Regions from separate parts of the Homo sapiens genome. Here region 2 is linked to region 1. The links come from fine-mapping of genetic effects on gene expression. A gene starts in region 1. The other region holds a variant in brackets. All regions are shown on one strand. Distances are from middle to middle. Region 1 holds the start of MGST3 (microsomal glutathione S-transferase 3). Region 2 has its middle 21 kb from the start of MGST3.

What was found. PIP is the estimated chance that this variant, and not a neighbour inherited with it, causes the effect.
Region 2: its variant is fine-mapped to the expression of MGST3 in activated naive CD4 T cells (Schmiedel 2018, PIP 0.95). The same link has a PIP of 0.9 or more in Th1 cells and regulatory T cells.

The regions. Positions count from the first base shown.
Region 1 is chr1:165,629,518-165,632,430 of GRCh38, reverse strand. MGST3 (microsomal glutathione S-transferase 3) reads right to left here and starts at 1,197. Exons shown (of 6, transcript NM_004528.4): 1 at 1,138-1,197. RefSeq lists enhancers at 523-692, 1,746-2,276 and a silencer at 1,123-1,362.
Region 2 is chr1:165,608,414-165,611,326 of GRCh38, reverse strand. No RefSeq gene overlaps it. Among named protein-coding and RNA genes, the nearest start is that of MGST3, 21 kb to the left of the region's middle. The variant C/TTC (reference allele first, on the strand shown) is at 1,240.

The DNA.
Region 1 (2,913 bases):
CCTGTAACTCTGACCAATAACCTGGGGTGCCTCCCAGAACTGCTGGCTCCAGGTGATCTACAGATTTCCCAAGAGAAGCGCTGCAGCTCCTACCCACCAGCAATCTAAAATCTGCAGCAATTCCGCAGGACCACACCTAGGCCCAACAGCACATACCTGCAGAGCCGGAAGCGCCTTCCCCTCCAGGGCATCTCCTGTCCCCAGGGAAGGAATTAAAGTTCTAACCCCTGCCTCTCCTTCTACCCATCCTAGTATCTGCTTTTCCTTTACCTCGTCTTCCACACTTACTTGCCCCCGACGCTATTATGTAGCTTGTAAACTCGTGACTCTCAAGGAAAGTATCAGCAGAAGCCACAACTTCGGGGAATGACTCACTAAGGAGTCTCCAGCGCCTTCCACCGCCCTGCAACTGCCCCACTACTGTAGCCCTACGGCTCCGTGCTGCCACCCCACATAAAGAAGGGGCATTTTCTGAAATCCAAGGAAGAACCTGAAGAGTCCCCCACCCGCCTAGAGGCGTCTCTTGCTCTAAGTCAGCGGTAGGAAATGACCACCTTCCCAGTACAAATGGACAAACGATTCTAAGAGGCAGGAGGAAAACAAACACAATTCCTTCAGAGGCTCTCCCGACCGTCCCTAGCAACACATCCCCACCGCAGCGGGTGCATTGCTCACAGGCCACTTCTGAAACCAGTGTTACTGATCAGGCCTGCACAACCACTCCCCCGGCAGTGTCCGGCTCGCCATCCTCTGCGCCGGAACAGCAGAGGGCAAGGTCGGGTGGTCTCCGGAAGGCAGAAAGGTGCCCCCAGACTGCAGAGCCCGGGGACAGCAGGAGAGGAAAGGAAGGAATGGAGGAAGGGTTGACCTTGAGAATTTTCCTGAGTTACACATAAATAGGTCGGGCCTCGCTTAGACGCTCCCAACCCACTCCACCAGGGAAAAGATGCAAGGCAAGGGGAGAGCAGAGAGGGTGGAAATTCAGATCGCTAATTTACTGATAAGGGTGGGGGGAGGTTAGAGACAGCGGGTCTCTATTCAGCTCGCATAGGCTGAAATATGGGAGTGCCCTGCGCAAAGGCTGAAGTGCCCCCGGCGGCCCGGTGCTCGTGGCTGCCCGCAGGTGCTAGCACTCACCTGGATCACCTTCGAACAGCTGGAGCAGAACAAAACTGCGCAGCGCGGTGTGGGTGCGGCGCCCTCGCCTGGGGCGGGGCTAGATGAGGCCAGAAGCAGGCCCCGCCCCAGCCGACCAGCGCGCGGCCACGCCCCCAAGGCGGGGCTCCTGGCGCTGGCGCGCGCTGTCTAAGTTGCCAACTCAGGGCCACTGGTTGGGAGGTGGAGGCCTAATTTTCTTCCTGCTCATGGTCGTCCAGCGATTTACTCCTCTCATTCTCAAAAACATATATCTACTCCCCCAGGTGCCTTCGTGGCCATCTTCCTAAACTGTCCCAGCCAGGTCATACCTCCCGGATTGGGTTTGCAGAACAGTGGGACGTGAATAATTTGTCCCCAGCAGAGCCACCGTAGCGGTTTTAGGCGCTCTGCTGTAAGGGCGAAGCACGGGCATGCAAGGCGCGTGCGCGAAAGTAGCCGCGCCTCAATCGATGTGTCCCTGAGGCGCGTAGCTGGGGCGTGGGCGGCGCTTGGTGTCCCAGGTTGCTACACTCCCGAAGTGAATGGATTTATCGCTGTTAGGGCCTTTTTGTTTAGGGCCTAACAAATATTGTTAGTTTTGCCGAGAGCTGGCGCCGAGCCCTGCCCTCGTGGTGGGCCGTACCCACGCCCCCTGAGCGCGGAGTCGCGTGGCTCCGGAGTTTTGTTTTTTTGAAAGGAGTCTCCCAATTGTCCGTGGAGTTTTTTTTGCGGCACATGGAGTCTCTGCCTTCGCGACCCAGACCTTTGATGTGAACACCTGCTCCCGTTACGCTCGGGTCCAGCGTCCGGGGCGGGGCTCGAGGCCGGGTGGAGGAGGGGTGGGGGCGGGGGTCTTGGTCTTGGGTGAGACCTGCAGATACGGTCGGGCTGAAGGAGTAGAACTGGCTTCTAAATGCCGGAAAATCCGAAGGAACTGACTGCAGAAGGCACGTTTCCAATTTTCGCGTGTTTTAAGTGCACCCTCCCGCCACCTCTCCTCTGGACATCCCTCATCCTTTTGAAGATTGCCACACCTGGGCCCCTCCTAGAGTCTCCTCTTTGGAGGATTCCTCACCTCCGAGAGAATGCTTAGGAACCCACCTGAATGATTCCAAGTTAAGGTGTGGAAAGGCAGAAATCTAGATTTTTGAAGGCTCTAGGTTATGTGTGTGTTTCTTTTTATTGGGTTGTCATATTTGCACATCTAGAGGTACTTTGAGAGCTCATTAAATCTTTACTGTTGCTGTTTCAGCAATTTCCAACCATTCTCATACTTTCTGTCATGTTGGGTTTCTGTCATGTTGGATGTAGAGAGGGCTTTGTTTTGCTTGAACATTGAAAGGAAGTAAGTTAGGGAGACAGTTTTGCATTATTGAGGCAAGTTTCTCCACTTGCTGGCTGTTCTACGTAAGAAGTCATTCCAAGGTGGTGGAAGGGATGATTCAAAAATCAGGAGCGGGGATGCACCTTGCACCCTCATTTTACACCGGAGACTGCAGTCTCAAAAAAAATTTGGCCTCTTCTTTGCCAGTTATCTCTGACCACAGACAAGTACTTAACCACTGAGGACCTTCTTTTAAAAATCTTATTACAAAAGCAGTATTCCTTTATATTAGAATTTTCGGAGATACAGAAAAGCCCACAAAAAAATTACATACACACACAATAGAATCATACTGTATATTCTGTTTTGTGGTCTGCTCTGTTCACTTCATAAAATGTAAACCCTTTTTTTGCTTTTCATTTCTTTTTCTTTTCTTTTGATACATAAACCAG
Region 2 (2,913 bases), 21 kb after region 1:
AGCCAAGATTGGACCACTGCACTCTAGCCTGGGCAACAGAGCAAGACCCTGTCTCAAAAACAAAAAACAAGCAAACCAAGAAAACCACATACACAAAACAAATAAGGGCAATACAAGTATTAAATGTTCTATAAAGATGCTTTTAGAGTGCAGTGGGACTCCAAGCACTCTAGCAGCTCCCTCCTAATCTATGCATCTCCAACTCTCTCTCTAAAATTTTCATCCTTCAGGTGGTGAAAGTGCAAAGGTTGCAAAACCAGTTTTCAGGAACCTTGTTTCCAGGCTCTGCTTCAAATTACGGTGGTGGTTGGCACTTAGAATTTGTCATCTGAACAAAACAAAACAAAAACCAACCAAACAAAAAACTAGTAATGTTTATTGTCTCTGGAGAGGAAACTGAGTGGTGCAAAGACAGGAGTGAAAGAGGAAGCTTCCCACTTTTGTATGTCTTGAATTCTAAGCCTCTATTACCTCCCATAAATATAAATTTAAAAATATAGCCAAGAATTACCAAAAACATTTTCTGACATGTCAGTTTGAGGACTTCAGAACGACAGCACCAAGGGAGAGCTGAATTAAAAAAGAGTCTGGGTGCCTTGCAGGACTCCCGAGGAAAACACGCATCTTCCGGTACAAACACGTCCTGAGGTGAAAAGCCAGCTAGATGAAAGGAGCTCACACTATTTTCACGTGTATATTGAAGGTCCACGGGACGCCCCTTCTAAGAACAGACTTTAAAATTTGAAACTCTTCTCACCCAGCGACAGTATCTAGTTTTCATAACTAACATTTTTTACACCAGAGGTTGCAATGTAGACAAGCTGGGAAAGGTACAACTGGCTGTGTTTCAAGAAGAGCGGTCTGCAGTGTGGCAGGTCCACCCTGCTCTGAAGGCAATCCAGGCTGTTTCTTGCTCCAGGTCCCAACTTCGCAGTCATATATGTAATCAAGACTAATGAAGCTCAATTCGTGAAATCAGTGAGGGCTATGTTTTCCAAATGGAGGGCGGGCATTGTATCACAGTAAGAAATTGATTTCACGTTGCAAGCCAGTATATACATTCATAAAAACTCACACATTCATATATACATTGGAAATAATACTTCCTTTAAATAATAATTACTTAAAATAATAATACTTCCATTTTTCCAAAAAATAATACTTTCTTTAATCACATGAGATGGACTCAATTTTCTTTATTTTTTACTGTTATTATATATATATATATATATTTTTTTT[C/TTC]CTTTTCTTTTTTTTTTTTTTTGAGACAGGGTCTCATGCCATCACCCAGGCTGGAATGCAGTGGTGTGATCTTGGTTCACTGTAACCTCGACCTCCCAGGATCAAGGAATCCTCCCACCTCAGCTTCCCAAATAGCTGGGACTACAGAAAGGCACCATCACGCCTTGCTAATTTTGATATGGGGTCTCAAACTTCTGGGTGCCAGGGATCTGCCTCTCTCGGCCTCCCAAAGTGCTGGGATTACAGGCATAAACCTGGCCATATTTTTATATTTTTATGTTTATTTTTATTTTTTGAGACAGGATCTCAATCTTGTCCAGGTTGGAGTGCAATGGTGCAAACACGGCTCACTGCAGCCTTGACCTCTTGGGCTCAAGCAATCCTCCCACCTCAGCCTCCCTAGTAGCTGGAACTACAGGCGTGATTATTTTTTATTTTTTGAGACAGGGTCTTGCTCTGTTGCCCAGACTGGAGTGCAGTGGTGCATTCTTGGCTCACTGCAGACTCGACCTCCTTGGACTCAGGTGATCCTCCCACCTCAGCCTCCTGAGTAGGTGGGACTACAGGTGTGCACCACCACACCCAGCTAATTTTGTTTTATTTACTTTTTTATAGAGAGGAGGTCTCATTATGTTGCCCAGGGTGGTCTCAAACTCCTGGGCTCAAGCGATCCTCCCAACTCAGCGTCCTGAAGTGCTGGCTTGGGCCACAATGCCTGCCTGGCTCTCAATTTTCTCTTCAGTTCTTTCTGACTTGATTTTTTTTCAGCTTTATGAACTGGAAGGGTCGGATTGACAATTTAAAATTGCATATATTTAGGCTGTATGATGTGATGTTGTATGTATGTATGTATTGTGAAATGACTCCCACAATCAAGCCGATTAACATATCCCTCTCCTCACACAGTTACCATTTCTTTTTTGTGGTGAGGACACTTGAGATATACTCACCTAGCACAGTTCAAGTATGCAATACATTGTTATTAACTATAGTCACTACGCTATTCATTGAGTCTCCAGTACTTATTCATCGTATTTGATTTTATTTTTTGAAACAGGATCTCACTCTGTCACACAGGCAGGCGTGCAACCTCTCACTACAACCTCTCCTTCCTGGGCTCAACCAATCTTCCAGCCTCAGCCTCTCGAGTAGCTAGGAGTATAGGCATAAACCACTAGGCCTGGATAATTTTTATATTTTTTGTAGAGATGGGGTTTTGCTATGTTGCCCAGGCTGGTCTTGAACTCCTGAACTCAAAGCGATCTGTCCACCTCAGCCTCCTAAGCTGCCTATTTGATATTTTTTAATGCTGATAACAACCCACCAAATTTATTTTAGACCCATAGTTTGGAAAATCCTGAGCTAGACTACAAACATGTATACTGAGTCATGATATAAGAGGCATATTTTACAATGATCACTTTAAATTAAATTTGAAAAACAAATTACTAGGCCATATTATAAACGTTGAAATTTGCTTGTGTTGTCATTGTTAAAATCTCTTCTGTCAAGATCTCTTCTGGCTGGGCATAGTGGCTCATGCCTGTAATCTCAGCACTTTGGGAGGCCTAGATGGGTGGATCACCTGAAGGTCAGGAGTTCGAGACCAGCCTGGCCAACATGATGAAGCCCCATCTCTACTAAAAATATAAATTAGCTGGGTGTGGTGGCGGG